Homo sapiens: one gene and its partner. The protein of the gene in region 1 interacts with the protein of each later gene in a pairwise test. Each region holds a gene or a part of one and is shown in the gene's direction. Other genes may lie near its edges. The genes, in order: LAPTM5 and HEYL.

Region 1 (3,808 bases):
TTGAGACCTTGCCATCCTGAGACAGTGCCACGCTCTATTGAGTCATGAGGGCGTTATTACATGAGGGAAGCCTGGTCCGTAGCTTTGGGCTCGGGCATCTTCCTCAGGATGTCAGTGGGTTTGTGTAGAGGATTCTCTGGGTCACCCAAACTTGCACACTTTGGGAACCCAGCAAACTTTCTTTCTTTTTTTAAAAAATCTATTCTTTTTTTCAAAGTTCAGTAACTTGCCCATCTTTTGTGGTTTGATTTGTTTTGTTTTGTTTTTGTTTTTAAGAGATGGGGTCTTGCTCTGTCACCCAGGCTGGAATGCAGTGGTGCCATCACAGCTCACTGCAGCCTTGAACTCCTGGGTTCAAGAGATCCTCCCACCTCAGCTTCCTGAGTAGCTAGGATCACAGGCGCATGCCACCATGGCCAGCTAATTTTAAATATTTTTTTTTGTAGAGACAGGGTCCCACTATGTTGCCCAGGCTGGTCTCAAACCCTTGGCCTCAAGTGATTCTCCTGCCTTGGCCTCCCAACGCGCTGGGATTACAGGCATGAGCCACCGAGCCCAGTCTAGAGAAATTTCTTAAATTGGGTCTCTTGGGTCCTGGCTTTTTGTCAACCTGAAGCACGTTCTAAGTCGATGGTAGAAAGTGGACACCCCCAGAAGACACTTTTGCCCAGAAATCTCTTTCTTCCTGACCCCTCTTCCCCAGAGTGCCCGGAATTCCACTGTCAGAAATGCATTGTCTGGGTTAAAAAACTTAACACCTGCTATGATTTCAACAGTGTCAAAACAGGATACGTCAAAACTGGGCGAGGAGGAAATGTATTTGGGTTCTAGGATAGTGAAAGCTCTATTTTTTCTACTTTTCTGTATTTTCCATATTTGGTACAATGAGCACGTACTTAGAACGGTTTTAGATTTACGAAAATATTGCAAACACAGTACAGATAGTTCTTGCGTCCCCCATGCCTAGTTCCTCTATTGCTAACGTCTCAACGTTAGTGTGGTGCGTTTGTTGCAATGGGTGAATGAATATTCGTGGGCTGTTATTAAAGTCAGTGCTTCACCCCTATTTCCCCAGCTTTCCTCTTACATCCTTTTTCTGTTCCAAGATTGCATCCAGGATGCCGCGTTACATTTAGTCTTCACACTTCCTTAGGTTCCTCTTGGTATGATGGTTTCTCAGATTTTTCTTGTTTTTGATAATCTTGACAGTTCGAGGAGTATTTGTCAGGCATTTTGTCAAATGTTCTTCAACTGGGGTCTCTGGTGGTTTTCTCATGATTAGTCTGGGAATGTGCTTTTGGGAGGAAGACCACAGAGATGATGTGCCAGTCTCAGAACATCGTACTAAGAAAAGGTTCTGCCAACTTGACTTACCACTGTTGCTGGTGACTTTGAGCCCCCGGCTGAGGTTACTCCTTTGTAAAGTTACTCTTTTTTTCTCCTTTCCATGCTGTATGTTTTAGAAGGAAGTCACTATGCTGCTCCAAGCAACTCAAGTTTGATGAATGGGGAGTTCCGCCCCACCTCCTTGAGGGCAGAGTAGCTACATAAATTACTTGGAATTTCTCAAGGAGATTTGTCTGTACTCCCAGTTTATTATATAAATAAATGATTTATTTATATTACAGGGACCCAGGGATCTTTACTGTATGCTTTGGGTTATAATCCAATGGTACTTTACTTTGTGGCTCAAGTATACTACTTTTAAATTGGAAAAAAAAAAAAGTACGGCCAGGTGCGGTGGCTCATGCCTGTAATCCCAGCATTTTGGGAGGTTGAGGCGGGTGGATCACTTGAGGTCAGGACAAAACCCTGTCTTTACTAAAAATACAAAAAATTAGCTGGGCATGATGGCGGGAGCCTGTAGTCCAAGCTACGCGGGAGGCTGAGGCAGGAGAATTGCTTGAACCTGGGAGGTGGAGGTTGCAGTGAGCCGAGATCGCGCCACTGCGCTCTAGCCTGACAGAGTGAGACTCTTTAAAAAAAAAAAAGGTAAAGCATTCAAATCATAGTATTTGAAGAAGGAGTCTCTATTGCCCTGACCTCGTGCAGGTAAGTTCACCCATGTGCCCAGCCCCAGGCCGGGATACAGCCCTGACTCATTCACGGCCTCTGCCCTTGAGGGGCCAGTCTGCCAAGGAAAAACCGACGAGGACAATGGATGACATTGCTGGCTATGATGGGGGCACAGATGTAGGGCTGGAGGTTGGGATTCTGGAATAGCTTCTTGGAGGAGGTCTGAGTCTTAAGGATGAGTAGGGCTTTGCTTGGGCACCTTGGAAAAGAGGTCACGCTGGGCGGGGGGAGTAGCATGACACAGGCTTGGAGGGGAAGGACCCTGCAGTGCTTCAGAGACCTAGCAGGTTTGTCAAGCTGGGTTAGGAGGGGTGGCCACGAGGTGTGTCGGGGAGGAGGGTGGAGAGGTCCCCAGGGGTGGGACCTGCCCGAGTCCTTTGCTTTTACAAGCTTCAGAGCTAAGAAGATGGATCTCTCTTCGGCCTATCAGCTCATTTTGCAGATGGGAAAACAGGTCCAGCAGGGCCCCTTACTTGCTCCAGGACACATGGAGAGATGGGGCAGGAGCTTGCTTCAGGTCCCCCTGCTGGCACACAGGTGTGTGGAATGATCCAGAAAGTGGGCAAATGAGTTCCTTCCCTGCCCCATGGCTGGGGTGGTGTGTCTGTCTGGGAGGCCCTGCCCTCATCCAGCCTCCCACCATTCATTTCTTCTTTATGGTCCAGTTTACGGGAAGCTTCCTCCTCCAGGAAGCTCTCCTGATTTGTCCTCCTTAGAACTCCTGGGGCTCTTTTCTCTGCTCCACTTTGGGGGCAGTGATTTGTGATTGAAAGGAACACAGGCCCATCTCCATTACTTACCAGCAGTGTGACTTGAGCAGGCGGGCACCTTTGTTATCTGAGCCTTGCCTTCCTCATCTGTAAATGGGGCCAGTGGTCCCTGCCTCAAAAGTGATCATTTGGAGGAGACCCTAGCGAAGCCGGGTGGAGGGCTAGCAGGTGAGTGCCTGAAGTGGGCTGTGGAAGAAGAACACAAGGCCCCCCGCCCCTTTTTTTTGAGACTGAGTCTTGCTCTATCACCCAGGCTGGAGTGCAGTGGCGTGATCCTGGCTCACTGCAACCTCTGCCTCCCGGGTTCAAGTGATTCTTGTGCCTCAGCCTCCCAAGTAGCTGGAATCACAGGTGTGTGCCATCATGCCCGGCTAAGTTTTGTATCGTTAGGAGAGATGGGGTTTCACCATGTTGGCCAGGCTGGTCTTGAACTCCTGACCTCAAGTGATCCACCAGCCTCAGCCTCCCAAAGTGCTGGGATTATAGGCGTGGGCCATAGTGCCTGGCCCCACTCCTCTGTTGAAAGTTCATCTGTTTGGGGTTGAAAAATGGGTCCAAACTGCCAGGTGGGGAAAACCCTGGGTGAGAATCTGTTAGAACTTGCCACCTTTATGTCCAGTGCCCCTGGGCTGGACAGAGAGGCCACGTTCTCTGCCACTGCAGCTCTGTGCGCTTCACGGAGGGGTGAGGAGGCCGGTGGGGGCAGGGTGGGAGTTGTAGCCCCTCCTCAGTGTCAGAACTGAGTTGTTCTCCTCACCTCAGGGGTGTGAACCCCAGCTTCTAAAAGCAGGAGGCCCCCATGGCCCATCCCACCCAGAGAGTGGCTGAAGGGCCTAGCCTGGCCTGGCCGAGACTTCTCTGTTGCCAACCTGGCCCCGAGGCCTCCAGGAAGTGAGGCTTTTATTTTGAGCCTAGAGCATCAGCCTGGAACCAGGACTTCGCTCTGAGCTCACTGTGAGGCG
Region 2 (4,240 bases), 8.9 Mb from region 1:
CTGAGGGCATTTGGAATGAGAGTCCATAGTTGTGGCTGGGGCGACCACCAGGGCTTCCTGGTACTGATTGCTCACGACAGTTGCGCCTACCAGTATATATTTGTAAGTCTGTCCGTGTGTATGTGTTTGCATACCTGGCCAAATGGTTGTGTCTGTGGATGTGTGTGGACGGGGGCACAGGAACATTCTTTCCCATCAAGTAATCAAGTGTCCCCCAGCAAGCAGGCCTTGCTGTGGGGATGGAAGCACAGTTATTCTCAGATGACCAACCCGATTCTCCCACTTGAAGGGGTGGCTTCCCTCAGGTCCTGACCTGGTGGCGGGTAAAAAGGAAAAGACCTCTCATATCTAACCCAGCACACCAAGACCTCCTCTATCTCCTCTTCCCTGCCCAAGAAGTCCAGCTCCAGGATGCTCTCATGCAGCTTCCTTTGGAGCCTTAGGAGCTTCTCTGAGGTACTGGGCGCCTGAGGATGACCGGTGAATCTGAGAACTTCCCACAAGTCCCCCTAAGGACAGGGCAGCTAGAGCCCTCCCTGAGTGAACAGTTTGATGGGTTGCCAGAAGCAGAGGCCCCAGGAAGAGAGGCTGGAAGGTATCTTCCCTTTTCCTCTCCTTCTCCCACTTTGAGGCCCTGCCATAGCGTCTAGAAGGAGCCCTTTCCTGGCCTCCTGGCCGCCCAGGACAACTCGACCTCTGGTGAACTGGGAACTGATTCCCAGGGACAACCCACCACTGCCACCACGCCAGGCCTTTAGGGACCTCGGCCAGAGCCCAGCTTTCTCAGATGCGGTGGCCACAACTTCAGCCGTCCCTTTTGGGGGTGACTGCCACCTCTCAGAAGTGTAAGTGTCTTCCCCTTGCCCCCACCACACTATTCCACTTGCTTTGGGCCCCTATGGAGTTGCTGCTGGGGAATTCTTGCTGAGGATCAGGCCACAACCACCACGACTAACTTCGACAAACTTGATGTGTCTGCTGCCTCCAGAACACCAGGAGGCAGGAGCGCGCAGGGTTGACCCTTGCGGAATCCCGGGCATCGAAGCGGCGCCTCTACAGGCCAGCAGCGCCCAGGCGACCCAGGGACAGACGGGGACTCCTGGCTTCCCCGCGGGGCCTCCCAGGGCACCTGCCCAAGGCCACCCAGCGCGCGGCAGCCGAGACAGCGGAGCAGAGCCGGACCTCCCAGCCGTCGATGAAGGCGGCGACCGCCTAGGGCCTTCCCACGGCTCGGCGGCGCGTCACCGCGGGGGCGAGGGGGCGCCTGGGCGCCCGGAGCTGCGGCGCAGGAAAGGGCCCTGGGAAAGGGCGGTGGCGGCGCCCCCGAGGCGGGGCCGGGGCGGGGCCGGGGCGGGGCCTGACTTCCCGACTGGGAGCCTTAGCCGCGGGGCTGAGACCAGGCAGCCTGCGTTCGCCATGAAGCGACCCAAGGAGCCGAGCGGCTCCGACGGGGAGTCCGACGGACCCATCGACGTGGGCCAAGAGGGCCAGCTGAGGTAAGGGCCGGGATGCGGGGACCGAGCAGGCGGAGGGCGAGCGGGGTGGGGGTCGGCCCGACGGGCTCGCCGAGCAGGCGGGCCAGCCCTCCAGCACCGCCTGGGCAGAGGCAGGTGAGCGCGGGGGCCACAGGTGTCGGCGTAGGGGGCGTGTGCGGGCCGTGCCGTTACACGCACGAGTGCCTGGATCCTGCGCGCTCTCGGTCGTGCAGGGCTGGGGATGCTGGCAGGGAGGGAGAGTTCAGCTCGGGGGATCAGGTGGCTAGTGGGTTATCATCTATCTGTTGAAGTGGCCTAGGGGAGGCCATTGGCAGGTTTTCCCTGGAGATCTTAGAAAACTCTCATAGACTGATGGTACTCTGGCCCCTGTCTGGAATCTGCTGACGATGCAGAGTAACCCCATCCTTTCCCAATTTTACCCTAGTTTGGATGCAGTTTTCATGTAGTCCACAAATTATTTCAGGAAGAAGAAAATTTGTCCTCCTTTGAGCAAATTGGAGTTTGGATTTAGGGACTTAGTATTGAAGAAAATAATAAGCGACTTGCAAGGGCCTAGACTCTAATTCCAATGTTCCTCCTATCGTGCCCCCATACTGCCAGTGTCTTTCAGCTCCTGGTAGATAGTCTGACCTGCTTCAAACCTGTCGAACAAACTGCGCTTGTATAGTTCTGCTACCTCGCAGTTCTGTAAACTGTCTAAGCTTCAGTTTCCTTATCTGTTAAATGAGCATGAATAATAGAACCAACTTCATGGAAATATTGGGAAAACCAAATGAGGCAAAGTATGTCAAGGGCTTAGCACAGCACATGCCTAGGTACACACCATGTGATTCCCAGCACCCTGAAAGAGCTGCAGGGCTGACTGGGAGTCTGCAGACCTGGGTCCCAGCCCCAAATCTGCCACCAACTCACTATGTGGTCTTGGGCCATTGGTTTCCCTGACAGAGTCTGTCATCAGTTTCCCCATCAGTAAAACAAAGACAGCAGTGGAAAAGAAAGGGATATACTTCATCTCTCTTGGCTCATCTAGACTTGACTCTCTAGAACAGAATTGGAGGGGAATTCAGTTAATTCTTTCTTTCTTTCTTTTTGACATGGTCTCACTCTGTTGCCCATGCTGGAGTGCAGTGGCATGATCATAGCTCATGGCAACCTTGATCTCCTGGGCTTAAGTGATCCTCCTGCCTTGGCCTCCCAAAGTGTTGGGATTACAGACATAAGCCAGTGAGCCAGGCCCAGTTAATTCTTAGGGATGTTTTTGAGGACATTTTGTAATTTTAGTGCTCTCCAGTTTTCTGAGATCCAAGGATCCTGCCTCAGTCTCAAATCCCAGGAAAATGCCATAATAGATATTCCTCTTGCAGCCTGTACATTTGTTTTTAGGGAGTATAACACAACTCGCTATGCAACGTATTAGCCTTTCTTAATTGTTTAGCAGAAACTGCTATTTAGAAAAGCAGTTATCTTAGCCTGTGCCTGTTAAGGGCCAGGAAAGGGCACAGCACCACGTGGTGGTGGTGGAGCGGGGTCTCAAATTCAATGGCATTGGGTCTTCATAGATCAGAGGCACAAAATTGATGCCAGAGAACTAGGTTGATCAGAGCTGGCTTCTGTCCTCCACAAGTTTGCAGCCCAGTCAGTGACCTGCCAGGTCATAAAAACACCATGGACAGGATGGAAAGGAGACAGACTGTGGGCTGTGAGGGCACTTAAGCAAAGAGAGGTCACTCTTAATCAAAGATGGCAAGGAGGGCTTCTTGAAGATAGTAGCATCTGGGCAACTGCTTACATGAGGCATAAAGGATCAGTGGGCAGTTTTTTCCTATACATACAGCATTTCCTATATATACAGAGCCCATTTTTAGACACTGTTCTTAGAGGAGCAGACCCCTCTGAGGAGAGAAAGCAGCTGGACATCTGGCAGAGGCTGACTTATAGATGCCCCTTTGTAGCACTCACCAAAGGGCCCTTCCCCCAGCAGACATCAATGCTTCAATTCAGGGAGCACTGAACGATGCCTGCTGTGGCCCAGACCCTGGGCTGGGCATAGGGGGCCCAGATGTATCCTGCTCAGCCTCTGCCCTCAGGGAACTCTCAGGGAAGAAGAGCTTCATGTACAAAGAAAGCAGATAAACACTGACAAAGGCCGCAGGACGGAGGCAGCCAGCCTCTCGGGGTCAGGGGCAGGGCGCAAAACCCCCACACTCAGAAACGTGAGAGTAAAGAGCAGGGTGTGTTCCACCATCACTGTGGCATCTGCCTGGTGGCAGTCCTGCCACATCTGTGAAACTCACCCACAGAGCTCTCATCTCAACCTGGCCCCATGACGCAGGATGAGTCCAAACTGAGAGTACAGCCTCTCCTCTCCCTCTGCAAACATCTAATGAGCACCTGCCACATGTCAGACACTGGATCAGGGTCCTGTTCCTGCACAATATAAGGTGGTGGTCTTGGAGTCAGATAGACCTGAGTTTGAATTTTACCACCATTAACTTTGGCCAGTGACTTTTACCCCTTTCTGAACCTCAGTTTTCTCGCGTTCAAAATGGGAATACATTAGCACTCCTGCCTCGCAGGATAAGGTTTGATGAAGTAACATACATAAAGTTACATAGCTCCCTGCTTTGGCACAAAGTAACTTCCAATAAACGTTGCTGTCAAAGCGGTCACCATTCAGTTGGGGGGCAACATATTTATGAGACAGCATGGTCTAATGAAAAGACCGGAAGTGTGAAGACTGGACT

Evidence for each region.
Region 2: the proteins of LAPTM5 (region 1) and HEYL interact in a two-hybrid assay, tested with the Homo sapiens proteins (one large-scale study listed by BioGRID and IntAct).

Annotation. Positions count from the first base shown.
Region 1 is NC_000001.11:30,751,003-30,754,810, reverse strand, and holds part of LAPTM5 (lysosomal-associated transmembrane protein 5), read left to right. Parts: intron 1-2,450; exon of another isoform or gene 2,451-3,808. UniProt on the Homo sapiens protein: May have a special functional role during embryogenesis and in adult hematopoietic cells.
Region 2 is NC_000001.11:39,636,802-39,641,041, reverse strand, and holds the start of HEYL (hairy/enhancer-of-split related with YRPW motif-like protein), read left to right. Parts: upstream 1-1,398; 5' UTR 1,399-1,416; coding exon 1,417-1,496; intron 1,497-4,240. UniProt on the Homo sapiens protein: Downstream effector of Notch signaling which may be required for cardiovascular development. Transcriptional repressor which binds preferentially to the canonical E box sequence 5'-CACGTG-3'.